Homo sapiens: one gene and its partners. The protein of the gene in region 2 purifies or fractionates together with the protein of the main gene of each other region. This does not show direct contact. Each region holds a gene or a part of one and is shown on either strand. Other genes may lie near its edges.

Evidence for each region.
Region 1: the proteins of HFE (region 2) and DIPK1A purify together in Homo sapiens (affinity purification with mass spectrometry; one large-scale study listed by BioGRID and IntAct). This does not show direct contact.
Region 3: the proteins of HFE (region 2) and LRP12 purify together in Homo sapiens (affinity purification with mass spectrometry; one large-scale study listed by BioGRID and IntAct). This does not show direct contact.
Region 4: the proteins of HFE (region 2) and POM121 purify together in Homo sapiens (affinity purification with mass spectrometry; one large-scale study listed by BioGRID and IntAct). This does not show direct contact.
Region 5: the proteins of HFE (region 2) and GALNT2 purify together in Homo sapiens (affinity purification with mass spectrometry; one large-scale study listed by BioGRID and IntAct). This does not show direct contact.
Region 6: the proteins of HFE (region 2) and PTGFRN purify together in Homo sapiens (affinity purification with mass spectrometry; one large-scale study listed by BioGRID and IntAct). This does not show direct contact.
Region 7: the proteins of HFE (region 2) and LSR purify together in Homo sapiens (co-immunoprecipitation; 2 studies listed by BioGRID and IntAct, with this or other methods). This does not show direct contact.

The regions. Positions count from the first base shown.
Region 1 is NC_000001.11:92,849,612-92,853,891, forward strand, and holds part of DIPK1A (divergent protein kinase domain 1A), read right to left. Parts: intron 1,345-4,280; coding exon 1,237-1,344; intron 1-1,236.
Region 2 is NC_000006.12:26,090,097-26,094,376, reverse strand, and holds part of HFE (hereditary hemochromatosis protein isoform 1 precursor), read right to left. Parts: intron 3,655-4,280; exon of another isoform or gene 3,537-3,654; coding exon 3,273-3,536; intron 3,064-3,272; coding exon 2,788-3,063; intron 1,769-2,787; coding exon of another isoform or gene 1,736-1,768; intron 1,693-1,735; coding exon 1,417-1,692; exon of another isoform or gene 1,351-1,416; intron 1,259-1,350; coding exon 1,145-1,258; intron 192-1,144; coding exon 151-191; 3' UTR 1-150. UniProt on the Homo sapiens protein: Binds to transferrin receptor (TFR) and reduces its affinity for iron-loaded transferrin.
Region 3 is NC_000008.11:104,488,736-104,492,777, reverse strand, and holds the end of LRP12 (low-density lipoprotein receptor-related protein 12 isoform a precursor), read left to right. Parts: intron 1-1,238; coding exon 1,239-2,105; 3' UTR 2,106-3,542; downstream 3,543-4,042. UniProt on the Homo sapiens protein: Probable receptor, which may be involved in the internalization of lipophilic molecules and/or signal transduction. May act as a tumor suppressor.
Region 4 is NC_000007.14:72,934,702-72,938,981, reverse strand, and holds part of POM121 (nuclear envelope pore membrane protein POM 121), read right to left. Parts: intron 393-4,280; coding exon 301-392; intron 1-300. UniProt on the Homo sapiens protein: Essential component of the nuclear pore complex (NPC). The repeat-containing domain may be involved in anchoring components of the pore complex to the pore membrane. When overexpressed in cells induces the formation of cytoplasmic annulate lamellae (AL).
Region 5 is NC_000001.11:230,258,834-230,263,113, reverse strand, and holds part of GALNT2 (polypeptide N-acetylgalactosaminyltransferase 2 precursor), read right to left. Parts: exon of another isoform or gene 4,027-4,280; intron 3,637-4,026; exon of another isoform or gene 3,533-3,636; coding exon of another isoform or gene 3,351-3,532; intron 542-3,350; coding exon 449-541; intron 193-448; coding exon 109-192; intron 1-108. Other genes in the region: uncharacterized protein LOC124904542, read left to right, coding at 3,351-3,532. UniProt on the Homo sapiens protein: Catalyzes the initial reaction in O-linked oligosaccharide biosynthesis, the transfer of an N-acetyl-D-galactosamine residue to a serine or threonine residue on the protein receptor.
Region 6 is NC_000001.11:116,915,885-116,920,164, reverse strand, and holds part of PTGFRN (prostaglandin F2 receptor negative regulator precursor), read right to left. Parts: intron 1-4,280. UniProt on the Homo sapiens protein: Inhibits the binding of prostaglandin F2-alpha (PGF2-alpha) to its specific FP receptor, by decreasing the receptor number rather than the affinity constant. Functional coupling with the prostaglandin F2-alpha receptor seems to occur.
Region 7 is NC_000019.10:35,258,742-35,263,021, reverse strand, and holds part of LSR (lipolysis-stimulated lipoprotein receptor isoform 2 precursor), read right to left. Parts: intron 4,078-4,280; coding exon 3,958-4,077; intron 3,952-3,957; exon of another isoform or gene 3,201-3,951; intron 2,024-3,200; exon of another isoform or gene 1,620-2,023; intron 1,098-1,619; coding exon 1,041-1,097; intron 477-1,040; coding exon 330-476; intron 1-329. UniProt on the Homo sapiens protein: Probable role in the clearance of triglyceride-rich lipoprotein from blood. Binds chylomicrons, LDL and VLDL in presence of free fatty acids and allows their subsequent uptake in the cells.

The DNA of each region.
Region 1 (4,280 bases), on a different chromosome or scaffold from region 2:
AAGCGATTCTTGTGCCTCAGCCTCTGGAGTTGCTGGGATTACAGGCATGTGCCACCACACCCGGCTAATTTTTTGTGTTTTTAGTAGAGAGGGGGTATCGCAATGTTGCTCAGGTTGGTCTTGAATGCCTGGCCTCAAGTGACCTACCGCCTCAGCCTCCCAAAGTGCTGGGATTACAGGTGTATGCCACTGTGCCTGGCCACCCAGCTAATTTTTGTATTTTTTGTAGAGACAGGGTTTTGCTATGTTGCTCAGGTAGGCCTCAAACTCCTGGACTAAAGCAATCCACCCACCTTGGCCTCCTGAAGTGCTGGGATTACAGGCCCGTGCCACGGGCCCGGCTGTTTGTATTTTTTTATTTTTATTTTTTATTTTTTGAGACACTCACTCACTCTGTCACCCAGGCTGGAGTGCAGTGGTGGGACCATAGCTCACTGCAGCCTCAACCTCCTGGGCTCAAGCAATCTTCCCACTTCAGCCTCCTGAGTAGCTAGAACCACAGGTGTGTGCCACCACACCTGGCATTTTTTTTAAATTTTGGAGAGACAGGGTCTCACTACATTGCCCAGGCTGGTCTCAGACTCCTGGGCGCAAGTGGTCCTCCCATCTCAGCCTCCCAAAGTGTTGGGATTACATGCGTGAGCCACCGCACCAGGTTGCCTTAATCACCATTGTATTCCTGGTAACTGAAACAGCATCTAACATCAAAGTGCTGACAGAAAAAAAAAAACAAAACAAAACAGTGTCTGGAATATACTGGGGATAGATTAATAAATATCTTTTGACTGGCCAGGTGTGGTGGCTGACATCTATAATCCCAGCACTTTGGAAGGCCAAGGCGGGTGGATTGCTTGAGCTCAGGAGTTCGAGACCAGCCTGGGCAACATGGCGGGACTCTGTTTCTACAAAAATACAAAAAATTAGCCAAGTGTGGTTGTGTGAGCCTGTAGTCCCAGCTACATGGGAGGCTGAGGTGGGAGGCTCACTTGAGCCTGGGAAGTGGAGGTTGCAGTGAGCAGAGATCTCACCACTGTACTCCAGCCTGGACAACAGATCCTGTCTCAAAAAATTAAAATAAAATAAATGTCTGTTTAATGAATGAATCAAAGCATACAAAATTGAAATACATATAATGTCTCAAAGCTTTGGTTCAAGAATTCTTTTAATAATGCCTTTAATTTCTGGTAAAATTAGAGTACACTATAATTCTGGAATGTTTATTCATAATGGCCATACCTGATTGTTGGGCTTGGTGGATAAACATTTTCCAAAGTAAAGAGTTTCTGTAACACAAAGGCTGTTACATGCAGGCCCATCAATAACTCCAGTCTTGTACTTGTCACACTAAAAACCAGGAAATAAAAAAGTAGTTAATAGAAAAATATTCACAAGAAGAAGCATAAAGAGATATCTATATCCTTTATGAGTAAGTTCTATGACAAAAAGAACTGAGGCTTTGGACTTAGACAGACCTGGATTTGATCTAAGCTCTGTTACTTATACCTATATGATTATGAGAAAGCTTGTTGCTGCTGGGGTGTGCGTAGAATTTTGAAACTATTTTTCCCACATGACATGGTCTAAGGTGGTATGTTACCTACTCCTTCCAAGAATAGAGGCACTCTATCTTTAAAAATGGTTCCGGTTTTAGGCCAGGCACCGTGGCTCACGCTTGTAATCCCAGCACTTTGGGAGGCCGAGGCTGGTGGATCATTTGAGGTCAGGAGTTCGAGACCAGCCTGGCTAACATGGTGAAACCCCATCTCTACTAAAATAAAAAAATGAGCCAGGCGTGGTGGCGGGCGCCTGTAATGCCAGCTACTCGGGAGGCTGAGGCAGAAGAATCACTTGAGCCTGGGAGGCAGAGGTTGTGGTGAGCCGAGATCATGCCACTGCACTCCAGCCTGGGTGAGAGAGTGAGACCCTATCTCAAAAAAAAAAAAAAAAAAAACTTCTGGTTTTAAAATAAATAAAGTTTAGAATAACAAAATAAAGTTACCTCTGTCACATTGTCATCCTTGAGATCACCCAAAAACAAGAAAGGGAAAAAAACCCATCCACTCTCTGAAAAAATATGGTACCAATGAAACCCTAGGCACAATAAATGAGGATGACCTGCCAAATTCAGTGAAGATTACACCAGAGCCTACAAGTATGCTGAGATTAAACACCTGCTGTGGTCCCCACTCTCAGACAAAGTTGGCAGAGCACCAAGTAGGTGGTACATCTGCAGAGCACAACCATTATCCTGGTTGCAACAAAGATTTAAGGGGCACAAGCTGTGGGAACTTCCCAGAACTCTATTTGGCACCATGAAATAGTAAGATAAGACAGGCCTGAATGATAAAATGCTCAGAAATGTTCTCTTTGCTGGAGGCAGTCTGTTGATGAACTACGGTTGGGAGAGAGGGCCAGAAGCAGCTTCACTACCAGCTCAGTTCACTGCCCAGTTGCTTCCCGCACATGGCTGGCTGAAGGAGACCTCATTTCACTCAGTAATGAGTAATAATCAAAACCAAACAAGCAAAAGATCTATACAGCAAATCTACAAGAATTAGGAAGAATGGAATAGGAAAAGCAAATGTCAGATAAAAAAAATTTTCTAGGCAGGGTGCAGTGGCTCACGCCTATAATCCCAGCACTTTGGGGGGCCGAGGCAGGTGGATCACCTGAGGTCAGGAGTTCGAGACGAGCCTGACAAACATGGAGAAACCCCGCCTCTACTAAAAATACAAAATTAGCTGGGCGTGGTGGCGCATGCCTGTAATCTCAAGTATTCAGGAGGCTGCGGTGGAAGAGTCGCTTGAACCCTGCGGGGGCGGAGGTTGCAGTGAGCCGAGATCACACCATTGCACTCCAGCCTGGGCAAGAAGAGCGAATCTCCGTCTCAAAAAAAAAGAAAAAAATTTCTAGAAGAATGTTGCTATGAAACAGACCAAACATATTGTTATGAATTTAAAGGACTTACTGAACCAGTTTAAAATAAGACTTCAAAGCAGAAGAAATGATGAGGCAATAGAAGGAAGTTTAAAATAAGCTAACAGAACTCAGACAGGAAGGAAAATAAAACATCTAGAAATAAAAGCCACATTATAAATGAGGGGAAAGACAGACAGGGATAAAACACAGTAAGATTTAGGAGGACTAGGCCAGGCGTGGTGGCTCATCCCTGTAATAACAGCACTTTGGGAGGCTGGGCAGGCAGATCGCTTGAGCTCAGGAGTTCAAGAGCAGCCTGGGCAATACAGCAAGACCCCATCTCTACAAATAATACAAAAGAATTAGCTGGGTTTGGGGGCACATATATGTAGTACTAGCTACTTGGGAGGCTGAGGTAGGAGGATCGCTTTAGCCTGGGAGGCAGAGGTTGCAGTGAGCCAAGATCACACGACTGTACTCCAGCCTGGGTGACAGAGTGAGACCCTGTCTTAAACAAACAAAAACAATAACAACAACAAAAAACTTTGGAGGACAAGGTTGAGAAATGCAAGCAAAATGAAATGGAAATTTAAAAATAATAAAATGAATTTAAGATAAATGTATAGATAAAAAAGACAAAGTATATCCACCATGTCCATATGAAGGAGAATGGGAACTGAAGGAGAATGGGAACAAGTGGAAAAGAAAAAATATTCAAAGTAGAATTCAAGGGAAACTTCACATAAATTAAAACACTTTAATCTATAGATTGAAAGGACATACAATGAATGTCCCAAGAAAAACTGACAAGAATGACCCCTGTGACATATCCCACTGAGGTTCACTGGACTTCAAAAATAAGTTATCCTTTGAGCATCCAGGCAAAAAGATCAAGGCACCTTTAAGGGGAAACCAATCAGATTGGCCCCAGATTTCTCCATAGCCACATTCAATAGTAGACAACAGTGGTGCAATGCCAGCGGAGGCTTTGGGGAAGGAAGTGAGACTCGCCTGTGTCCTAATAGTCTCATCTGTGAAGGGGATGTTAATAGGTCTTAATTTACAGCATCCTTATGAGGATTAAATAGTGTAAGTATAGACCACCTGTGACTTTAAAAAGTGCTCAGTCATAGCTATTATTATTTTACATAGCTGAACTTTCTTTCAGTAGGCACCAAATGTTTTTGAACACATAAGGTTCAGAAAATATAATTTCCATGAGCATCTCTTGAAGAAATGATTAGAGAAGGAATTTCAGCCAACAAAGAGATGAATGGAGAAATGGAACATGAAAGCCAGTTGAAATGGACTGGAATAAAAACAGCTCAGGTAACTGAATTAATAAAAACTGATTTTTTTTT
Region 2 (4,280 bases):
TGAACAGAGAAGGCTAAAATCAAGGAGTTCGTCAGGCAATTTCTATGTTTAGGTTCAACTCTCTCCTGAAACATGAAGAGCTCATAAATGCACTCCCTCTTTGAGTCTCTAGTTTTGTCTCCTTCCCACAGTGAGTCTGCAGGCTGCGTGTCACTCACGTTCAGCTAAGACGTAGTGCCCCATGGCTCCTCCTGTGGAGACAAGAGACCCAGGAAAGAGGCATCACAAACCTAGGCACCATCTTGCCTCTTCTCTCTTCCTTATTTTCCTCATTCACCCATCTCAATTTAGACCTGGGCACTATTGGATTTCAAGAACCATTATCTCTCATCTGGAAATGCTTATTGGCTTTCTAACTGGTCTCCTCACCTCTCATCTAACTTCTTAACAACACATTCACCATATAAGGGAGATCGTGGTCCTCCTTTCTTAGGATCCTTCAATGACACCCCAGTGATCATAACCCAATATCCCAAAAGACCCTTGGACTCTGTATGAGCTGGCTTCTTTCTGATTCTCTTTTCCCTACACCACAGATGTTCAGGGGGTAGAAATGCATAATTGGTGAGTGATAGCTACGCAAACTCAGGGTTAAGGTACAGTAATTATTTCTAATCTCCCAGTATGCCTTATACTCTCCTACTTGGCATGGTTGCTCCGTCTGTGTAGACCTCCCATCATCTTCAACCTCACCTAATGGAATCCAGCTTCTCCTTCAAGATCCAGAAGGCTATCTTGATCCCCAGCTGAATGTGATCATTCTTTCCTTTGACACCCTAAGCATTTGCTTCCTGCCTGCTTTAGGACCTCATGGGGTCTTCTTTAACTACATTTACTTGCTATCAATTTCATTCCCTACCAGATTTGGGTTCTGAGAATAGCCACAGTGACTTCTCAACCTCAAAGCCCCTGTACTACCTTAAACAGCTCTTGCAAAATAGTAGGTGCTCTGAAGATGTTTGTTGAATTAGAGACTTTCATTCTGGGGAGAACCATTATTTTCTGTCTCCCAGGGAGCTGCTGGTGTCCCCAAAGAATATAAATGAGAAAAATGCTTCCCATGGATGCCAGATCCCCTCTGCCCCTCTTCCCACTGTGCCCTGGGGCAGAGGTACTAAGAGACTTCCCCCTTGTTCCTACTCACTTGAACCCTGCCTCTTCCTTAATATTATGAACAAAATTCCAATGAACAAGATGACGACAAAAACAGCAATTCCACTGATGACTCCAATGACTAGGGTGCCAGACGGTGAGGGCTCTAAAACAGAAAAAGCAAGTTAAAGCCTTTGATTGCCACCCTCAGCCCACCCCCTAACAAAGAGCAGATCCTCATCTCACTGCCATAATTACCTCCTCAGGCACTCCTCTCAACCCCCAATAGATTTTCTCAGCTCCTGGCTCTCATCAGTCACATACCCCAGATCACAATGAGGGGCTGATCCAGGCCTGGGTGCTCCACCTGGCACGTATATCTCTGCTCTTCCCCAGGGGGTACAGCCAAGGTTATCCAGCCCTGGTAGGTCCCATCCCCATTGGGCAATACGTCTTTAGGTTCGAACTCCTTGGCATCCATTGGCTGCTTATCCTTCAGCCACTTCATGGTGATGTTCTGGGGGTAGTAGTTCAAGGCCCGACACCGTAGAGTGGTCACTGAAGAGGTCACATGATGTGTCACCTTCACCAAAGGAGGCACTTGACAGGAAAGAGGAAGGATGAGGAGAGGGGATCTGTTTACCCTTGCCAGGAAGACTGGAACTTTCACTTCCTTCTATAGGTTGGAGGAAGGAAATACCCTTTTCAGAAAAAAACAAGCTACAGGAGAGACACCATTTTGTGTCCTAAGATTGGACTCTAACACAGTGTCACTTGGAGAGCAGTCAGATCAGCTTGTTCTCCTCACATGTAAATATACATATCTGTTACCCATGTTCTTTGTTCTGATAGATAAAATTGCCCTTTATGTGCATTGAAAATGATTGAATACAGATGGTCAGTTTCACCTGGGTCAACCTAGGAGGCATTGTTATAAGAAGCGGACTTGTAAGATAGGTAGCTTCAGTGATTATTGCTATGTTCTATGAAAGAAACTTTTAACCTAAAGGATTCTTCTACTCTGATAAGTGGCCTCACTTGATATTTTGTCCTGGTATTCATATGATAGCTGAGATCTCTGAATTCTCTTTTTTTTTTTTTTTTTTTTTTTAAGATGGAGTCTCACTCTGCTGCCTAGGCTGGAGTGCAGTGGCGCGATCTTGGCTCAGTGCAACTTCCGCTTCCCAGGTTCAAGCGATGCTCCTGCCTCAGCCTTCCAATTAGCTGGGACTACAGGTGCGCATGACTGTGACCAGCTAATTTTTGTATTTTTTTAGAGACGGGTTTCACCATGTTGGTCAGGCTGGTCTCAAACTCCTGACCTTGTGACCACCCGCCTCGGCCTCCCAAAGTGCTGGGATTACAGGGGTGAGCCACCGTGCCCGGCCTTGACATTTCTGAATTTTTAACAGGTATAAATATACAAAAGATTATTGGTTAAATAAAAAGCAAGGGCCATAGACACTTCCCTTTGAGCCATATGCATGGAGAAAAGAAATTAAACCCATGACTTGTGGCTGTCTCATACATCTCAATTATAAGGTAGAGACTCTAGGATTGAGAAAGTCCCTTCCCAGAATTTGGAGAGGCACACAGCCTCAGCCACCTCTGAAACTCCAACCAGGGATTCCGTGCCCTGCAACCTCCTCCACTCTGCCACTAGAGTATAGGGGCAGAAGTGTGTTTCCACCATACCTTGTTGGTCCAAAACACCTCTCCCCAGCTCCAGCAACTGCTGCAGCTGTGCAGGGCAGTCCCTCTCCAGGTAGGCCCTGTTCTGCCTGGCCCGAATCTTGTGCCTTTCCCACTCCAGCTTGGTGGGCCAGGCCCTGGGTTCTGCTGCTCTCCAATCCAGTGTGTCAGGGCAGAATTCAAGGTGGTCCTGCCCATCATACCCGTACTTCCAGTAGCCCTCGGTACTGTTGTCTTCTTGCATTTCACAGCCCAGGATGACCTGCAGGGTGTGGGACTCTGGAAAAATCCCCAGCCTTGTTAACTGCAACCAAAGGAATAGGTCCCTATTTCCACCATCCCCAAGGACCAAATGATCTCAGGAAGCAAATTCCTTCCCTCTTCCCTGCTCCCACAAGACCTCAGACTTCCAGCTGTTTCCTTCAAGATGCATGAAAAGATGAAAAGCTCTGACAACCTCAGGAAGGTGAGGCCCCCTCTCCACATACCCTTGCTGTGGTTGTGATTTTCCATAATAGTCCAGAAGTCAACAGTGAACATGTGATCCCACCCTTTCAGACTCTGACTCAGCTGCAGCCACATCTGGCTTGAAATTCTACTGGAAACCCATGGAGTTCGGGGCTCCACACGGCGACTCTCATGATCATAGAACACGAACAGCTGGTCATCCACGTAGCCCAAAGCTTCAAACAAGGAAAGACCAAGGTCCTGCTCTGAGGCACCCATGAAGAGGTAGTGCAGAGAGTGTGAACCTGGAGACAGAGCAACAGGCCTTAACCATGTGTAGTAGGAGGGGAGCAGGATGTTGAGGCTCCACACACCTGCATCAACTCATACCATCAGCTGTGTCTGGTCCTCATTTTGTGAAGGGTGAGTTGCAGTCCTGTCTTTCTTCCATATGACAGTCCTGGGTGCTCTTTCCTTGTGTGCTTTTCTCTGCCACACGTGGCTGCCACCCCCTCACTGCCCCCAGATCCTATTCCAATACTCATGATTAGACAGACTCCACTAAAGCTGGTGGATTCTAGAAAATGTTAAGGTGTGTCTAGCCATGGTAGTTGAACTCAGGAGTTGGTGCTCAGGGCAAATTAGACCCAAATCCTGAGGAATAATTCCTTCAGTTTTTTTTTTTTTTTTTTTTTTTTTTTTTGAGACAGAGTCTCACTCTATCACCCAGGCTGGAGTGCAGTGGCACAATCTCAGCTCACTGCAACCTGCACCTCCTGGGTTCAAGGGATTCTCCTACCTAAGCCTCCTGAAAACCTGGGACTATAGGCGTGCGCCACCACACCAGGCTAATTTTTGTATTTTTAGTAGACATGGGGTTTCACCATGTTGGCCAAGCTTGTCTCAAACTCCTGACCTCAAATGATCTACCTGCCTCAGCCACCAAAGTGCTGGGATTACAGAAGTGAGCCACCGTGCCCAGCCTTGGTCCTGAATTCTTACACTGAACTGCCTATGTGGCCTCACCACTTGGAAGCCTGACTGGAATC
Region 3 (4,042 bases), on a different chromosome or scaffold from region 2:
TATCCAAATTTCTTATTGACAATCTGTGCCTTACTAATGTTAGACTATGAAATGTTCCTATGATAGTAGCTTCTTATCATAAATTATGTTCATGGCACTATGGAAGGGCCTATATGGAAAGCATAAATAAATGCAATACCAGTCACAAAGAGATACAGAACATAAGAGGACATCTTCCTTATTTTCTACCTTCTTTCTTCTGTGAGGGGAAAGGGAAGAGGTGTGAGTTTTGGCAGGAGATGGTATCATCAACTGAAGGAGAGTATATCAACTTAAGATTGTTTCCTGGAAATACAATTTTTAAATACTAAATGCCAGGTTGGTGAAAGCTGTTTCAAGTTTGAATACTTCTTTTTATAACCACTAGATGGAGCTTAAAGACTATCTTATATAATGCTATATGCTTTTAAAAACAAACTCTAAACTCGTTCATCTAGAAAAAAGAATAGATTTTTTATTCAGTTGGACAACCTTTCATGTACACTAATTACAGCTAACTAGTTTTCAAAGAATGATATATTTATACTTAATACTAAACTATAGAAAATAAAACTTTAAAGATTAAGAAGGAATCTAAATGTCGATACCATTGAGTAATGATATAAACAGGTTCTTTTGTTGTTTCTTGTTGTCTTCGGTGCTGTATTACAAATATAATTCCTTTATTTGTGACAATATAATTAAATCCTCAGTATCCATTCAGCAAATGCTTGAGAACCAACTCTGTGAAATACAATTTTCACATGTTTTGGAAAAGTTAAGCCTTGTAAATTAAATCTAATTTGTTCTTTAAAAAAAAAAAAGATAAAAGTCCTCGTTTTCACAAACTCATTTTGGTCACTTCGTCAATTATGTAGAGATTCTCCTATGTTCCTAGTTACAGAAGTATCAATTTTATTTTCTAGCTTTGGTACACTTTTCATGTTGGATTACGATGTGAGATTTTGAAACAACTGTTATAATTTACATTAAATATCATTTTTAAGTTGCATATATAAAATGGAATATCAAGAAAAGTTTAAACAAACAATGATTCAAGTTAGATTAGTAGATTAGATTCTGTAGTAGGATGAACCCACATAGGTAAGAGAATTTAATTTTTCCTTCTTAGACCCAAAAGCAACAATGAGTAACAGAATTTTTAACCACAACACATTCTTAATAGAAGGGTGTTTTTTTTTTTTTTTATCTTAGTACCTTGTTGTTAACTATCTTAAGATCTTTTCTTATTTTTGTAGGCTTCTGTTTTGGAAAATCTGAGGCTAGCGGTACGATCTCAGCTTGGATTTACTTCAGTCAGGCTTCCTATGGCAGGCAGATCAAGCAACATTTGGAACCGTATTTTTAATTTTGCAAGATCACGTCATTCTGGGTCATTGGCTTTGGTCTCAGCAGATGGAGATGAGGTTGTCCCTAGTCAGAGTACCAGTAGAGAACCTGAGAGAAATCATACTCACAGAAGTTTGTTTTCCGTGGAGTCTGATGATACAGACACAGAAAATGAGAGAAGAGATATGGCAGGAGCATCTGGTGGGGTTGCAGCTCCTTTGCCTCAAAAAGTCCCTCCCACAACGGCAGTAGAAGCGACAGTAGGAGCATGTGCAAGTTCCTCAACTCAGAGTACCCGAGGTGGTCATGCAGATAATGGAAGGGATGTGACAAGTGTGGAACCCCCAAGTGTGAGTCCAGCACGTCACCAGCTTACAAGTGCACTCAGTCGTATGACTCAGGGGCTACGCTGGGTACGTTTTACATTAGGACGATCAAGTTCCCTAAGTCAGAACCAGAGTCCTTTGAGACAACTTGATAATGGGGTAAGTGGAAGAGAAGATGATGATGATGTTGAAATGCTAATTCCAATTTCTGATGGATCTTCAGACTTTGATGTGAATGACTGCTCCAGACCTCTTCTTGATCTTGCCTCAGATCAAGGACAAGGGCTTAGACAACCATATAATGCAACAAATCCTGGAGTAAGGCCAAGTAATCGAGATGGCCCCTGTGAGCGCTGTGGTATTGTCCACACTGCCCAGATACCAGACACTTGCTTAGAAGTAACACTGAAAAACGAAACGAGTGATGATGAGGCTTTGTTACTTTGTTAGGTACGAATCACATAAGGGAGATTGTATACAAGTTGGAGCAATATCCATTTATTATTTTGTAACTTTACAGTTAAACTAGTTTTAGTTTAAAAAGAAAAAATGCAGGGTGATTTCTTATTATTATATGTTAGCCTGCATGGTTAAATTCGACAACTTGTAACTCTATGAACTTAGAGTTTACTATTTTAGCAGCTAAAAATGCATCACATATTCATATTGTTCAATAATGTCCTTTCATTTGTTTCTGATTGTTTTCATCCTGATACTGTAGTTCACTGTAGAAATGTGGCTGCTGAAACTCATTTGATTGTCATTTTTATCTATCCTATGTTAAATGGTTTGTTTTTACAAAATAATACCTTATTTTAATTGAAACGTTTATGCTTTTGCCAACACATCTTGTAACTTAATATACTAGATGTTAAGGTTGTTAATGTACAAAAAAAAAACCCTTATACTCACCTGCGTTTTCATTTGTTTGACATTTGTCTATTATTGGATTTCATTATCATATGAACTTGTCAGTGGGAAACAAACTGTCTAAAAATTTTTCTCTTACGTTTAACATACAATCATGTGAAATTTAGGCAGAGTTCGATAAATTACTGGCAAAAACAAAACTCTTTTATAAAGATTTTCTAATGTTGACTTTAATACTCTAACATGGTACAAACCAAATGGTAAAATCCCAAGTCATTTCTTTTTTCATCTCTATTTAGCAACAGAATTAAGTGGATGAAGATATTCTACTATGCATTAAATCTTGAACTTTATAAAACATGTACAAAAATTGTACAAGATAAGTTCCACCTGGTAATGTCTTTCCCTAATACAGGGTTGCGCTTGCATTGGACCCTAGGGATTTGCACTAAAATTATATCAAGGTCTCAGATGAGCTTAGTGCACAAGCACTATCACTTTAAATACTATTATTTGCTACCACAGCAACTATATATTTCCATAGCTTTTGGCTGGGGGCGGGGGACATTTTTATTACAACTTGAAATTGCTTTGCTGGTTTCATATTTATTTGTTGTATTTAAAAAATACATTGTTGTAAGAGTGATTTTTTCAATATATTTTATTCCTGGGGGGGATCATGCTACACTCTCAAAAGAAAATTAAGAAATCATTCAGATCATCCCCCCTTTTTAAGTAGTGTGAATTGCAAAACCCAACATATTTTTTTTACTGTCAGTTGCGGTTTATTTATTCTTTAACTGTCTGTTTTAGTAGTTTAATGATTATGAAAAATGTATCTGTGTGTGATTTGCTATTTATTAAATTTTAAGTACTTTGCTGAATGTCATTTTAAAGCATGTTTGAAGTCTTGTGTATTTGTCTGTGTTAATGCTGTCAGGAGGAACTGACTAAGATGTTTTAATATGTATCAAAAATTAAAATGATTTTTTTTATTGCCTTGAGGTACTTTTTAAATCAAAGCTGTTCTTTATTTGTTGAATTTTGGTGCATATACAAATTCAGGCCATAAAATATGCAATATATCTAGAATAAAAATGATTAGAAGGAGATCATTCCTTAACTACTTTATAGTAAAGTAGTAGCTTTTACCAGTACTCGAGGGTAAAATTTTCTAAGGACTTGAATATTATTTTGCTTGAGATTGCCCTTCAATTGATGTATCTCACAAGATGAGAGAGTTTAATTGATTAAACTGCCTTTTAATTGACGTATCTCACAAGATGCAGTAACACAATCAGTTCTCTTTTTAAATTGTTTTCACATACATTTTAGACCCCTATAATATATTCTACTGGCAGAATTTGGGTTACCAAATAATCTTTTATGCCCTAGTACTAATATATTATCAAGTACAAGGGTTTTGGTTTTCTAGCATATGTTTTAATTTATTATTTTAATTAACTAATACATCATCCTGGTTCAAACAGTAAAATGTAAATTCCTCTTCTATCCCA
Region 4 (4,280 bases), on a different chromosome or scaffold from region 2:
AAGGCGACTGCCCGCTGACTTGACTCTCTCTGCTCTCCACTCTGCATGGCCTCTGTGCTTGCACCCGATCCCTCATGCTGGAGTGGGAGGCGACAGCCAGAGGCCACTGGAGTCAGTATCCAAGACTGTAGGGATGACAGCACTTCGGGTGGGTACTGCATTGTACCTCTCAGGGACTTAAGTTTCTTTGATTCTCCAAGTCACAGCAGCACAAAGCCTAAGAGCCAGGTTCGTTTCCCACCTTTCCTCACCCCCGCCTGTCCACGCAGCAAATGAAAACTGCAGGAGAATGCCAAGTACCTTATTTTCTTTGCTGGCCTCTCCGGTGTCTGGGAGCGGGAGGAGGCTGGGCTAGAGAAGGGTGATGAACTGGGGCCATTTCTCTTCCAGAGCTAAAAATCAAGAGGGACATGACTGAGCCTGCTGATAACTTAGCATCTGACCCTCAACACGACAAAGTCTCTTTTCAAGTGACTAAAAAAACATTCTTTATGGTTAAATGGTTAGTCATGCCTGTAATCCCAGCATGCTGGGAGGCCAAGGTGGGAGGATCGCTTGAGCCCAGGAATTTGAGCCCAGCCTGGGTAACATAGCGAGACCCCTGTCTCTACAAAAAAACTGAAAAATCAGTTGGGTGTGGTGGTTTGCATCTGTGGTCCCAACTACTCAGGATGCTGCAGTGAGCTGAGATTGCCCCACTGCACTCCAGCCTGGGTGACAGAGTGAGACCCTGTCTCAAAAAAAAAAAAAGAAAAGAAAATGAAAAAAATTTGTTTGTGAAGAAAGACCCCTGAAAAGAAAGTCAACTGCCAGTATTAATTATGAAAGCAAAAGAAGAAAAGTCTATAAAAGTAATGGAATGCGAATAAAGGTAGAAGGGATGGACACACTTTTGCATATATTAGGTGGAACGTTAGCCTCAGTAATGAAGAGCCAGGACACATTCAAACCTGTGCCAGACTGTCTACGGAGAGGATAGAAGTAAATTAAAGAAGATAACCCAGTAAACTAATTTAGTCTTGCTTCTATTAAATTTTCTATTTTAATTTACTAACTTCATTTTAAAAATATGCTGTCGTAACGTTTATGACTTTTGCAACAACGATGGCATTTATCATCATGTGATGATTATCCATACATCTGCCTCTTCCACCAGGTGAGTTCTTGACAGCAAAGACGGTGTTTTCATCTCTGCTTCCTCCACAGACCAGCAGCAAAGTAGATGGCACAGAGCGGACACTGCAAATAGTCTCGTAAGTGCTGAGCCTAATTACAAAGCCACTAAACTGTCACCTCAGACCGTCTTTCCTACTTGAAAAGCTGCTAGTGATTTCTTACCCAGTACCAGCTACATCATATAAGTACAAACAGGAAGCCAGCAATGCTTAATAAGAGTTCAAAAAGGGAAAAGAGGAAGCTTCAGACAAGTGGTAAGCAGCAGAACAGTTCAGTGAGGCCACCATCAGGAAGCCGGGCCCAGGAGGAGCTTGAGAAGACTGCTCACGGCAATAACAGTTGAAGTTACGCTCAAACAGCAAGAAAGGCCAGAGCACAATGGTTTAAAAAACATGGGATTACAGGCATATAAAAGAGCAGAATACAAAAATTCATCAAAGGGATCCAAGGATTGAATATATAAGCGGCATTTTCAATCACTTCAGATCCCTGACACTACCTCACTGGTTCTCAAAGGACGGCTCAGTCACCTGTGGAACTTTTTTTTTTTTTGAGACGGAGCCTTGCTCTGTTACCAGGCTGGAGTGCAGTGGCGCGATCTCAGCTCACTGCAACCTCCGCCTCCCTGGTTCAAGCGATTCTCCTGCCTCAGCCTCCCGAGTAGCTGGGACTACAGGAACATGCCACCACACCCAGCTAATTTTTGTATCTTTAGTAGAGACAGGGTTTCACCATGTTGGCCAGGATGGTCTTGATCTCTTGACCTCGTGATCTGCCTGCCTTGGCCTCCAAAAGTGCTGGGATTACAGGCGTGAGCCACCACACCTAGCCACCTGTGGAACTTTAAAAGCACATAGATGGCCGAGTGCGGTGGCTCACACCTGTAATCCTAGCACTTTCAGAACTGAGGCAGGAGAACTGCTTGAGCCCAGGAGTTTCGGACCAGCCTGGGCAACATAGCAAGACCTTACCTGTAGTTAAAGTAATAAAATTAAAACAATAAAAACCATAAACCTTGCATTTTTCTTCACAATGTGCTCCAGACACTGAGGGATACACATCACTGAGCAAGCAAGGGTCAGAAATGCCAAAGGGGCCAGACGAGGTGGCTCACACCTGTAATCCTAGCACTTCAGGAGGCTGAGGCAGGAGGATCACCTGAGGTCAGGAATTCCAGACCAGCATGGCCAACATGGTGAAACCTCATCTCTTCTAGAAATACAAAAACAAGCTGGGCACGGTGGCTGACGCCTGTAATCCCACCACTTTGGGAGGCCAAGGTGGGCGGATCACGAGGTCAGGAGATTGAGACCATCCTGGCTAACATGGTGAAACCCCGTCTCTACTAAAAATACAAAAAATTAGCCGGGTGTGGTGGCAGGTGCCTGTAGTCCCAGCTACTTGGGAGTCTGAGGCAGGAGAATGGCTGGGAGACAGAGCAAGACTCCGTCTCAAAAAAAAAAAGGAATACAAAAATTAGCCAGGTGTGGTGGTGCATGCCTGTAATCCCAACACTTTGGGAGGCCAAGGTGGGAGGATCACTTGAGCCCAAGAGTTTTGAGACCAGCCTAGGTAACATAGTGAAGTCTCATCTCTACCAAGAAAAAATAAAGAAAAAACAGAAATGCCAAAGGAGACTGTAATGATTAGCTAGGACTGGAAGACAACTGAACAACTGGTTTAACAATTAGGGGAAAAAAGTATTACTCCTCTACTTCATTGACTGTACATACACACTCATTTCAGATCTAACAAGACAAGGATGTTTATTATCATGTCTATTCAACTTAAAGTCCTAGCCAAGTGCAGCAAGACATAAACAGAATAAGATTGCAGAGGAAAGGAAAAACTCATTATCATAGACCTGAGTGTATGTACTAAAATCCTAAAGAACATACAGATTTAGCAAACTTTCTGAATACAAAATCAGTTGTATTTCTACACACCAGCACAGCCAATCACATTTTGAAGGCACTATTTAGAATAGCATATATGAAGGCACTATTTAGAATAGCATATACCTAGGGCCAGGCGCCGTGGCTCACGCCTGTAATCTCAGCACTTTGGGAGGCAGAGGCAGGTGGATCACCTGAGGTCAGGAGTTTGAGATCAGCCTGGCCAACAAGGTGAAACCCTGTCTCTACTAAAACTACAAAAATTCGCCAGGTGTGGTGGCACGTGCCTGTAATCTCAGCTACTCGGAAGTCTGAGGCTGGAGAATCACTTGAACCCAGCAGGTGGAGGCTGCAGTGAGCCGAGATTGTAAATCTAATAAAAAAGAAGTAAAACCTCTACAGAGAAGAAATAGAGATGATGTAAATAAATGAAGGAGGCAGGACATGGTGGCTCACGCCTACAATCCCAGCACTCAGGGAGGCCAAGGTGGGAAGATTGCTTGAGCTCAGGAGTTTGAGACCAGCCTAGGCAACATAGTGAGACTGTGTCTCTATTATAAGTTTTTAAAAATTAGCTAGGTGTGGTGATGCATGCCTGTGGTCCCAGCTACTCAAGAGGCTGAGGCAGGAGAATCGCTTGAGCCTGGGAGTTCAAGGCAGTAGTGAGCTATGATCATGTCACTGCACTCCAGCCTGGGCCACAGAGCAAGACCCCTTGTCTCAAAAGTTAAATAAATAAATAACGACATTCCATGTTCATAGATTAGAAGTAAACAAGGTCAATATTGTAACAATGTTAATTCCATCCAAAGTAATCAGTAGATGAAAGGCAATCCCAATCAGTATCTCAGAACTTTTTTTTTTTTTTGTGGAAATTGACAAGTTGATCTAAAAATTATATGAAAATGCAAAAGGCCAAGATACAAGACAGTCCTGAAGAGAAATGAGAAAGTGGGATGACTGACTCTATCAAGACTTAAAGTATAAGGCTAGGGGTAAAACAAAGACTGGCACAAGGGTAGGTAGAAAAATAGACCAATGGAACAAAACAGAGTCTAGAAATGGACCCACATATATACAGACACTTAAATTAGACAAAGACGGTGCTGCAGAGAAATAAGGATGGTCCTTTCAATAAATGTTGCTAAGAGAAATGGGTATTTCTACAGTAAAAAACAACAACAACAACAACAAAAACCACCAACACCA
Region 5 (4,280 bases), on a different chromosome or scaffold from region 2:
CCCAATCTCATGCCTGCAGCCCCACCTCCATTTCCCCTCTGCTGCTTCTATGGCCTTACTGGCTTCTAAGCCCTTACAAAGTGAAACCCCAGATCCCTGGGGACTTACCTTAACTCTGGATAGACATTTTCAAGGTACCATTTGAAAGGCTTGCAGCTGAGTTTCTTCCTAAGCTCCAATCTGCTCTGAATACTGGAGAAGAGGGAAATAAGATTCCTTTATAAATTTTAAGAATAGATGGGCTTTCTACATCAAACTTGAAAATCTGCTGAGGAGAACAGGGTTGGGGCAGGTGGTGTGGTGTGGACTGCCCATGCTCCTGTGCCCACAACCCCTTCCCGCCTTGGCACCTGGGTAGCTGAATTCAACGCTGGGGGCAGCCCCTTACCTCCCACCCCCACACCCCAAGAATCCCCAGTAATTGTGAGAAGGCAGAACTGCCACTTACTTTCCATAAGGAACGTTTCTAGCAGAAGGCACTGCTGCATAATAGAAATTTTTGTATTCATCCATCCAGACCTCTGCTGCCCGGCGGGTGTTTCTAGAAAGAAAATAAATCTTGAGGTGTGATTTCCTTTCTTTCTGTCTGCATCACTCCATTTGCACCTGTCTGCTGGCGTGTGACTGAGGCGGCTCCCTCTGGGTGTGCAGCAGCTCCAGCTGGGATCACGGCACACAGCAGAGGGTGGGCTGTCCCCACCAGCACCTCGAGCTGGACCTGTGGGGAGCCAGCCTCAGCGGGTGCTTACTGAACCATTGGAATGGCTTTCTTGTCACACAGATGGTCAAAGGGCAAAAGGCAAAGTGGAAATTACAGCACGAGCCAATATTTTAAAGGAGGGACTGGGGTCTATATCTTAAAGAAGGACAAAAGAAAGTTACTCTTTAAAAACTCTCACATTACGCGTCCACAGAGGGCCGGGGCCACAGAGCACAGCAAGGAGATTCCAGGCCCCACGGCCTTCTCCGTCACGGCTACGACACTATCAGACAGCTCTGCATTAAAGTTCAGACTACATAAGATAAGAGTTCCTGGGAAAATCACTTTCTTTTCTGCGGGGCTAAGCTGAAAGACTGCCATGTTTGCACTAGCTTTTTTTTTTTTTGATGGAGTCTCGCTCTGCTGCCAAGCTGGAGTGCAGTGGCGAGATCTCGGCTCACTGAAACCTCCGCCTCCCGGGTTCAAGCGATTCTCCTGCCTGAGCTTCCTGAGCAGCTGGGACTATAGGCATGTACCACCACACCCAGCTAAAATTTTTGTGTAATTTTAGTAGAGACGGTTTCACCACATTAGCCAGGATGGTCTCGATCTCTTGACCTTGTGATCCACTCGCCTCAGCTTCCCAAAGTGCTGGGATTACAGGCGTGAGCCACCGCGCCCAGCCGGCTTTTCTAGAAGGAAAGAAAACCATGTACTTAAATCTCATAGAGAGAACCATGATTTGCCATAAATAAAGCCCCTGGGACAAGCTACTCTTGAATGTCTGACATGCATTAAAAGCTATCATCTGCATAGGTATCAGCAGTGTATTCTGCCAAGAATTATCTTAAAGCATCCATGAAGTAGCAAGCACACAGCTAACCTCTTTGCTCCCATATTCTGGTCTCGGCTATAAGGTGGACTCCCACTTCAGGCTATAGCTAGCCCTCCTTAAGAACCCCATAGGAAGGCACTGTGTTCTTCCAAAATAAATACAGTAAGGAGGTAATGCTCGCCTTTTAAAATAATTCCTTAAAATGGCGAAACTTTCAACTGATCTGAGATACCATTATTAAAATAATTTCTGTATGGGGCCTATATCTTTCATATAAGGTGATATATATACTTTTTCATTTTAGTAAGTAGAATATGGACTATTATCCATAATGCCATTCAACACAGATAAGAACATATGAATGCACCTATTCTCTGACCCAGCAGCTCTACTTCTAGAAATTTATCTCAAGGCAGCAATCAATTAGGAATGAAATATACATGTGAAAATATGCTCACTTCTGCTTTGTTTATAATAGCAAAAAAAAAAAAAAAAAAGAGAAACTTTATGACTAAATATGAGGAAGGAATCAAATGAAATATTCTGTGACCACTAAAAACATGAGTGTGCATCTTACATGTTGACAGAAATGATGTCCTGGACTTGTGGGAAAATAAAATAGTTTGCAGAATTGCATATAGTGGATATGTGTGTAGAGGCAGAAGGAGAGCCAGTGAGCAAACAAGAGAGAGAGACAGAAATAGATACTGACAGACGAATTCATCAAATTATGAGAGTGTTATGGCACAACTGGTTTGGTGATGAGACTGATGAATTTTTACTTTCTCTCTATTAAAAAATATACAGATACAACAATGAGTACTTAAAGTGCTGGGGGATACTGGATCATACATATCATTTCTCAGAAGAGCCACTAAACATTGTTAGTGGGGTTTTGCTAAGTGACCTATGCCTTAACCTATGCCTAGTCAGTTTTTAACCAGTTATTAACTTAAATACTTGTAACATCTGGCACCTGGATTTCCCCAACAGGGACATGAAAGGATTTGATTCCAGAATGTCCTAGGTTCCTTTCAGCCTTAATGATTTAAAGGTTTTATCAACTCCAGTCATACTGTTTTCAAATCACTCAAGTTTTTAAGTGACTAAATCACTTAAAAATTCCTAAACGCAAAGCAACTCTTTTCTGTCTTTGTAATAGAAAAGGATAACTAGGCAGCCCCAAGGAATGATCTCCATGTGCTACTCAGTGCTAGCTCCTTTTATTCATTTATTTATTGGTTCACTCAGGTATTTATTTGGTATCTACACCAAACAGTCTCAGTGCTGCAGATACAGTGGCACCGAGGGAGACTCACTTTTGTCCAGGCCCTCCTTGTTTTTGCAGGTATTTGCAAGTATTTAGGTAGTATTAAATAAGTATTAAATAAATATTAAATGTCATCTATTACAAGTTGGGCATCCCTAATCCAAAATGTCCTAACATCCAAAACTTTTTGAGCACCAACATGAGATAGTGACGAAACTGCCTTTGCAAAAAATTTAACAATGACAAAATTGACAGTTTAAGGCATCTGACCTGACTGACTCCATCTAACTTCTAACGTCTAAACTGCCCTTGTTCACTCCTGGGCATAGGCAGAACTAACTTTGGGAGAAACTTAGTTTATAGTTTAACTTTAAAACAAAGATGGTAACAGCCCTTTCCCCAAACAAACCCTCTTTTTGTCTGGGTACCAGACTGCCTTTGTTGGACTAACAAATCAGCCACAGATTTGCAACTTCCCCAATTACTCCTGCAGATAACATCACCATTGCAGAACGTAAGATTGGCCTTTTGTAATGTCTTTTCAGGCTTCTGCACTTCTGATGACTCCATCCAGATCTCCAGCTTGTCCTGTGGACCCATCCATGCAGAAGCAGACTCGGCAGGCACAAGGACCATTTTCCACACCCCTATGATTGCACCTCATCCAATCAGCAGCACCCACTCCCTAGTCCCCAGCTCCCTCCAGATTATCCTTGAAAAACCCTAGCCTCTGAATTTTGGGGGAGATTGACTTAAGTAATAAAATTCCAGTCTCCCACTTAGCCAGCTCTGTGTGAACTAAACTCTTTCTCTATTGCAATTCCCATCTTGGTAAGTCAGCTCCATCTGGGCAGCGGGCAAGGTGAATCCAGTGGGCGGTCACAGTGACGCCTTTGCTTTCTGATGGTTTAATGTACACAAACTTTGTTTCATGCAGAAAATTATGAAAAGTATTGTATTAAATTAACTTCAGGCTATGTGTATAAGGTCTATATAAAACAAACAAATTTTGTACTTTGACTTAGGTCCCAGCCCCAAGATATCTCATTAGGTAGTACATATAAATATTCCATATCCTGAAAAAGTCAAAAATCCAAAATATTTCTTGTCTCAAGCATTTTGGATAAAAGATATTCAACCTGTATAGGAGATTAAGAGAAACTGCAGCTGGAAAGAGACCTCAGAAATACAGTGATATAATTCCACTTCTTTATCTTTCAGATGAGTCAACTGAGGTAAAGAGCAACCTGGCTGAAGGTCAACAGCAGGGCTTTTTAATCAGATCCATGCTGCCCCAAAATAATGAAACCCTGGATCAGCTTCTTTTCCAAATCTTGAGAATACAGGCTCCTGGGCTGTGAAATACAATTTGAAAATGTTTCTCTTCTAACAAAGAGTGCAATGTCTTGAGTACTTTAACATACTGTTTTCTGAAATCTCACTGTTTGCTGGTAGGTATCAATGGCTTTGGTGTG
Region 6 (4,280 bases), on a different chromosome or scaffold from region 2:
CGAACAATTTCCAGAGCCCTCAGAGGCACCAACCCACTGTTGTGAAGAGGCACCAGCCAGGTGAGAGACAACAGGCACAGGCTGCAGGATTATAAGGAGTGCTCAGAAGATGGGCAGGAAGCCAGGGCTGGGCCAAGAGGCCACATGGCCAACAGCAGGGGTCAGCATGAACTCAAAGAATTCTGGAGATGGAAGGGGAGACCTTTGGGATCAGCTAGCCCAACCCTTATTTTACAGGGGCTGAGAGCTGTTCAGCAACTTGTCCAAGGTCACAAAACTAGTGAGTAGAAGGACAAGGGCCAAAATCCAAGCCTCCTGTCTTGAAAGACAAGGAAACAAATGTTATCACAATTTAGCTAATTATATCAATTCCTTTCAGTGTTTTCAAAGATATATTTTGACTAACATGGAAAGACAGACTAGTGTACTGTGGTTATGAACCCACACTCTGGAGCCAGACTACCTGGGTTTGAATCCCAAGTCTGCCACTTACACTGTGACCCTGAGCAAGTGACTTCACCTCTGTGACTCAGTTTGCTCATCTATTAAACAGGGGTAACAACAGTGCCTACTCTCATGGGGCTATGAAGCCTCCTAAATAAGTTCATCTATGGAAAGTGCATTAGCTGGTTCCGGCTGCTGGGGAGGCTGAGGTGGGAGGATCACTTCAGCCAGGGAGGTTGAGGCTGCAGTGGGCTATGACTGCAACATTACACTCCAGCCTGGGTGACAGAGACCCCCTCTCTTTAAAAAAAAGAAAAGAAAAGAAAAGCGTAGTGCCTGGCACAAAATAAATGCTACAAAAAAGGTAGACAGGAATTTATTGGGAAGGAAAGAACCCTCATATTGGTTTCTCTTGCATCGCACCTGGTCCCCAACCCCCAATTCATCTTAGTCATAGGTTACTGCCTTTTCCCCACAACGCCTAGGGCTAATGCTTCTAAGTCACACCCCTCTCTCCTAATCCATTCAGGCCCAACCCAGTCAGATATTAGCTCAACCAGCCAAAATGGTGGAAGAGGCAGAAACTCTGAATAAATGCTTATGTCACTACTAGCCATCCAGCCTATCTCCCCTTAGATCTCTGCTGCCAAAACCCTGAACTCAGAAGTTACCTCTCTTGATCCTCACCTCCTACTTTCCTAGACTACCCATTCCCTTGCACCTCAGAATCTGCTTTTATGCCATCATCATGCCCTCCAGGCCCTCAAACCTTCTGCAGGTGCATCAAGCCTGGAAGCCCCACTCACCTGCCTATCCCACGTGTACTCCTTGGCTAATCTTTCCTGTGATGTTCTCATCAGTTCCCTCGGTTCCTTTATCACTCATCCTTCCACTCTCATTCCATGGAGAGACCACATGATGCTGTCCCTCCTAGGCTGCCAAACTTGGTGGGATAAAGCCACGAAACTAGGCCCACTGCCTTTACTACAGACCTATGCTATCCTCCATCCTTCACTGCTAACTGAATGACTGTCACATTCCCGTGGGGTCCAGCCCCAGCCCACTCTCCTCCAGCTCAGACTCTGACCATGGCTTTGCCTCAGTCCCACTGAGAAAGCCCAGACTACCAAGTAATTTGTATGCCAAACCTCCTCCAGACATGCTTCTTAAACTTTAGCATGCATTTGAATCCCCTGCGGATCTTGTTCAAATACAAACTTTGATTCACAAGTTTGGACCTGAGATTCCCCCAGGTGCTGCCAATGCTGGTGGTCCACAGAACACAGTTGGGGTAGCAGAGTTCTAGGAACTTACATACACTAATGTTTGCATTCTTCTAAATATATTGTTTTTAATCTTCATGGAAAAACCTCCAAGAGAGGTATTATTCCCATTTCACAGAGACAGAAAGTGAGATTCAAAGAGGTTAGAAAACCTGTCCAAGGTTCACACTGAGGGAAGACAGGATTCAAATGAAAGGCTGATTCTGAAGCCTGAATCCTATTTTTTCCTCTTTTAATTGGGAGATGAAGTAAGGCTGGAAGGGTATAAAGAACAGAAGTAGATTTTAAAAACACACATGTAATGGTTTATTTGTAATACAAACTATTAAAATCTTCTTAGCTAATGTGAATAAGAGAAAGATGGATTATAAAATGCAAGAGTCCCTGTGCTAGAGATTCTGCCTAACAGCCAAAGACCTAAAAGCTATCAGAGAGTAAGTTAATTCCACCAATCAACACAGAAGAAGACATCCAGAGGGACACAGAGGAAACTTTATATGTGTGCAGATAAAGAAAGGGAACATACAGGCCGGGCGCAGTGGCTAACGATATTTTGGGAGGCTGAGGCAGGAGGATCACTTGAGGCCAGGAGTTTGAGACCAGTCCGAGAAACATAGCAAGACCCTGCCTCTAGGAAAAAGATAAAAAATTAACCAGGCCTGGTTGTGCAGTCCTGGCTACTCAGGAGGCTGAGGTGGGAGGACTGCTTGAGCCCAGGAGTTTCATGCTGCAATGAGCCGTGATTGCACCACTGTAATCCAGCCAGGGTGATAGCGTGAGACCCTGTCCTAAAAAGAGAGAGACAGGGAACAAGGGAACATATAGAAAACCTCTAACTAGCATGTCTGGGGAAGCTTTGGGGCTACTCTTAGGGCTGAAAAGTCTGAGATCACTGCAGAGACTGCATGCCATATCAAACTGCTCTCTCCATGCTCTCCTCTCCCTCTCCCTTCCCTCCTCTCTGGCTCTTCAAGGCTAGGGCTTCTATTTGCACCCCAACCCCCCTGTGCCACCTTCTCTGGAGTCCACACCCAGTAGTCATGCCTGCTCACTGCTCTTCAGCCTGTCCTTTGCCACCAGAGTCTCCCAGCTGGCCTGTGGGCCTGCTTAGAGACGCCTGGATCCTGTTTAAGTTGATCTGGTTCTGCCGTGCCCTGAGCCACTACCCTCACAGTGGTCTTCTGCTCCACACCACTTGAAAAGGTGGGCGATCGTTTCTGACTCAGAGTTCCTTCCCCACCCCACCCACTTCTCAAGTTCTGTGATTTCCCTTCCTCCTTCACTGGGCAGACTTCACAGTGCCCATATCCAAGGGCTTCTCTGTCTTTATCCTTCCAGTTCTGTAGCAGCATGTGACCAATCCCTCTTTAACAAGTCCACTCACACCCATCTCTGCTTGGCTTCCGACAGCGTGCTCTCCCAGTACTTCTTCCGTTCCCTGACTACTCCTAGAACTCTCCCTTTCATTTCCTGTCTCCTCACTGCAGGCATTTCCAAGAACCTGCCCTTGACCCTCATCTCAATCGTCCACTTTCTGACATCTAGTGCATTTTGTCCAACTCTTTGAGGGCAGATCTGAGTCTGCTCTGCTCATACAGCAATCCTCAGAACAATGCCCGGCGTGTAATAGTAGGCGCTTGCTCAATATTTGCTGAATAAATGAGCTGCTAGCCGTGTTACTGAGCTTCTCACCTTGCATCTTCAAACAGCTCATTCCAAAGCTAGGGCTAAAGGGCTGTAGTTCACCAAGTGAAGGAGAGAACTGCCATCCTTCGTCAAATCATAGCACACACAGGAAATGACAGTATCTGTACAGCTCTCTGGGTACGCAGGCCTTTGGATTTAGAGGCAGCTCCTGCCCTGTGGGTATCAGTATCATGACAACCCACCTGAAATCCATGTGAGTCCCTTACTGAGGCCCATAAGCTGGGGAGTTCTGTCTAGTCCAGCTCTAAAGAAGAGCAAGGAAGAGCCATTATCAGAATATTCTTGGCTTGGAGTCACTTTTAAGCTCCAAGAAGTAACTCATCTGTCTGCCCACTATCTCTATTTCATTAGGATTCCAAGGTAGCACCCACTCTGAAATGTGCCCGGAACCCTTAGGCACAATTCCACTCTTCGCTATTCTAAGCCAAATTCATCCTAGACAGAGCAACAGTAGCCACGGGTTCTTCTCCACTCCTATGAAATATCCCAAGTGAGGTAAATATTTTCACATTCCAGCTGCTTGTAAAGGTGTGAAACAGGATGCAATTAAGGTCCCAGAACATTTTACTTAAACTTGAATCATGCTGCTTAGTGACACAATACAGAGTATTGTGGAGAAATCAGCCTTCAAAGAACACAAGCGAATGCACAGAGCCATGATCTCCAGCCTACTGGAAACGCATATTGCTGGGACACGACAGTGTTAACTTCTGGGTCTAATTCTGTTGCTTCCCAAAGACTACAGTTGGTGTGGGGAGAAATAGTCCAAGATCGAAAAAACCACTGACTGTGCCAACTGCAGCACTTCACCTTTTCCAGAAGATAAATTATGAAGAATTTTTGCCA
Region 7 (4,280 bases), on a different chromosome or scaffold from region 2:
AGGCGTAATCACTGCGCCTAGCCAAGATTTGGTTTTTTTAGAGGGCTTTACTTCCATGTGACTAGTATCTTGTACTGTTGGACATTTTTACCATGTGTATGGATTATACTTACAAAAGAAAAGAACAACATAAATAAAAATAAACTAAAAGTTGGAGGAAGTAAACGACAATCTAAACAGCAGACCCTCCTCAGCCTACTTTCTCCCCACTGGCTAAATTCACACCCTCCAGACCAACGCCACTGTCCTGGGGGCAGGTGGATGGCCACCTCCTTCCCTTGGATGCAGGATGTTGCCCAAACCAGGGTGGCCATGAGCGGGACACTTACGGGCCTCGGGGCAGCAGCACTTGTCTGGGCAGCAGGGGCACCTGACGTAGCAGCAGCAAGTGTGCGGGCAGCACTGGCACCAGCAGATGCCCAGGAGGAGGAAGATGAGGAAGGCAGCCAGGCATACCACAACCACGAAGAGCCAGTCTGCAGAAAGACAACAGGCCCTGAGCCCGGAGGCCTGGGAGGGAACAGGGCTAACGGCACAGCAGGGGTACATGGTGCGGAGCCAGCACTGAGGTCGGGGACGATTTGCAAAGCTCACCAAGGAACCTGCAGCCCTGGCTGGATTTTTTGTGCCAGAGGCTGGGCACAGCACACTCCCCATTCTACCATCCCGGCCATTCCCCAGTTACGGCCCTCCCCCAGGTGCAAAAAACACAAGGCAGAAAACGAGGCAGCCTGCACAGAGGGAGACAGACTGCAGCCCCCAGACCAAAGAGAGAGCCAGCTGCCCAGACGCCACACCCTCAAGAGCACCGCAGGTGCCAGTCACAGAGCCCTGGCCTGCACCCCAGGCTCTCCTCAGCCCAGCCTAGCCTAGGCCCAGCGCCAGACCACTAGATGCCTCAGAGCCACAGTCAGGCCAGGTTAGTGAGGGGTCCACAGTGAGCAGGGTTTAGTGGGGAAGGGGATACTAACTAGAGTCAGAAGCAGTAGGTGATGTATGGGAGCTCCCGAGAAGCCCAACTCAGGATCCACCCCCCGTACCTTCTATGGGCCCCGCCTGAAAACCAGGTAAGAGCTCAGCCACCCCTGAGGTCCTCCCTGGAGGGACAAAAGAGAAACAGATTATGCTGGCCAGAGCCAGCCCAGGCTGTGCCACCCCCGAAAGCCCAGCTCCAGGCTGGCCAAGTGCAAGGTGTGCCCTGAAGCGGGAAGGGGCTGGGGGCTGAAGCCCTAGTGCATGGCTCCTACCCTCCACCCGCCCACATGTGGGTGCTTATAGGTAAGAAACTCCCATTGCATAATCCACCTGTGTTATGCCACGAGGGCTCCAATACAAATCCCAGGGGGTTCTGAGGGCTCTACCTCAGCTTGGGCACCCTAAGTTTCCCTCATTCATAGGTCTTAGCACCCCAAAGGGCTCCAACCACGGTGATAGGGATGTCCTGTTCCAGCAGGCACAGGGACCTAGGGCCCACGAAATAGGATCTCAGCTCTGTCGCCCAGTCTGGAGTGCAGGGGTGTGATCATGGCTCACTGCAGCTTCAACCTCGTGGGCTCAGGCGATCCTCCCACCTCAGCCTCTGGGGTAAGTAGCTAGGGCTACAGGCATGTGTCACCACACCTGGCTGAAATGGTTTAATTTTACTTTACAAATCTGAACACAAATTAACACAATATACAGGAATAAACTCTTTGTGACAACATAATCACACATTTTTTTTAAAACAGGAAGGGACCCATGAAGGCAAAAATACCCACATATGAAAGTCATATGCAGTCCTGGTTCTGGGACCCACAAGGTCTCCATCTCTACTCATGCACTGTCACATTCACGCATCTCAGAGCCGGTTCTTGTCTTCCCTCGAGTGCCCCTGGAGCTCTGAGCCCCACCAGTGTTGTGTCTGAGGGGCCTCCACAGGCCCAGCTCTGCACCCACGAAGCCCTCCCCAGAGCTCATGCACTTGGCACTATAGGCCCTCGCAACAGGACAGAGGCATGTCAGTCACAGCTCTCAAAGCGTGGTCCTGTCCACAAGGCCAAAAGAAGAAATTTTAGAATAACACTAAGATGTTATTTGCCTTTTTCACTTGTTCTCCCATGAATGTCCAGTAGAGTTTCCCAGGCTCCCTGATGCCATCATCGCCCTGATGCCTAATGGACTATATGCGTGTGTGTGTGTGTGTGTGTGTTTGTGTTTCTTGAGCCAGGGTCTCTGTCACTCATGCTAGAGTGCAGTAGCATAGTCACGGCTCACTGCAGCCTTGACCTCCTGGGTGCAAGCGATACTCCTGCCTCAGCCTCCCAAGAAGCTGGGCTCACAGGTGCATGCCACCATGCCTGGTTAATTTTAAAATTTTTTGTAGAGTCAGGGTCTTGCCATGTTGCCCAGTCTTCCTTGTGTATCTTGGGCTTGAAAAATCTCCCCATTTTAAGGCCGGGCAGTGGCTCATGCCTGTAATCCCAGCACTTTGGGAGGCCCAGGTGGGTGGATCACGAGGTCAGGAGATCGAGACCATCCTGGCTAACATGGTGAAACCCAGTCTCTACTAAAAATACAAAAAAAATTAGCCGGGTGTGGTGGCGGGTGCCTGTAGTCCCAGCTACCTGGGAGGCTGAGGCAGGAGAATGGCGTGAACCCAGGAGGTGAAGCTTGCAGTGAGCCGAGATCGAGCCACTGCACTCCAGCCTGGGCGACAGAACGAGACTCCATCTCAAAAAAAAAAAAAAAAAAGGAAAATCTCCCCATTTTAATTCCTAATATGTTAAGCAACAGATAGACATAAAACCCACAGAAACAAACAAAAGCTCTTGGAGACCCTCGATAATGTTTTAGAGTGTAAATAGACCTGGAGACTAATTTTGGGAACTGCTGATGCAAATGGTGCATTTTACCGAAGAACAGGCAGAGGTTCCTGGGTCACTGGTGCACGTGTTCCATCCCCCACACATGAACTCTGTCTTGCAGCCCAAGTACCCCCCAGTCACGTGCTCATTCACACATGTGAAGATGGCAGTGTACAGCCCAGCGGCATCACTCATGCAGAGCACATGTCATACAAGACTCCATGTGTTGGCTTACAGCAGGGCACCTGGCCGATGGCAACATCCCCCTAACACAAGGAGGCCTCCCAGCCACACGGACACCCCGCCCTGCCCCTGGGTGTCTGGAATCGGCTTCGTTTCAGCTGCACTCAAACTTACACAGTGTGTGTGCCATGCAGCGCCATCCCAGCAGGGCACACGGCAAAACCGCTGTGCTTTGGCGAGGGACTCGGGTGAGATGAGGCCTTGGGGATGTAGCAAGAGGTGGGTCGATTTTGCACACCATCAACTGTCCTCATTCACTGCCCATGGACTCTGACCACGTCTGGATTTTTTTTTTTTTTGGACAGAGTCTCACTCTGTCGCCCAGGCTGGAGTGCAGTGGCTTGATCTTGGCTTACTGCATCCTCTGCCTCCCAGGTTCAAGCAATCCTCATGCCTCAGCCTTCTGAGTAACTGGGATTACAGGCATGTGCACCACCACGCCTGGCTTTTATATTTTTTATAGAGACGGGATTTTGCCACGTTGGCCAGGCTAGTCTCGAACTCCTGGCCTCAAGTGATCCACCCGCCTCGGCCTCCCAAAGTGCTGGGATTACAGGCATGAACTACCGCACCCGGACCCCAAGTCTGGATTTTTTTTAAAAATGAGACTTTGAAAAGGCAGAGTCTCCAATTGTCTCCACTCTTCTCTTAGTTTGGCTTGGGTGATTGGAGGCACTGTGGGCCAGTGGTCCCTGCCTGGGGTGCAGGGCACAGGGGAGCCTAAGTGACTGGCAGAGCCTGGGGGAGAGCAGAGCAGGCGACAGAGCCCAGAGGGTAAGCTGGAGGGCAGAGGGCGGACACAGGGGAGGGCAGACAGAACAGAAGCGGACAAAAGGAAGGGCCATGCCTCCCCCTTCCCAGGCCCACTCACCAAGGACGATGAGCTCTGCGTAGGCCTCATTGTTCCCCTGGAGGTCCTGGGCTGAGACCACGGAGCAGTAATACACACCACTGTCCCCCCACGCCGTCTGGTCAAAGGTCAGGTCAGCATCTGAGTCGGGATGAAAAGGCGTGAGGGCACCTTGGAGGCTGGGGCACCTAACCCCTGGAGGGCCAAAGACCCCTTCCCAGCACACCCAGGAGGGGGCAAGCAGTGGGCTGGGCAGGCTGCAGATGATCAAATGCATATGCAAAGATTCCTACCAAGGGCACACGGCCTTTTACACCCCGTTCTAAACACCTGGACTACTGCAA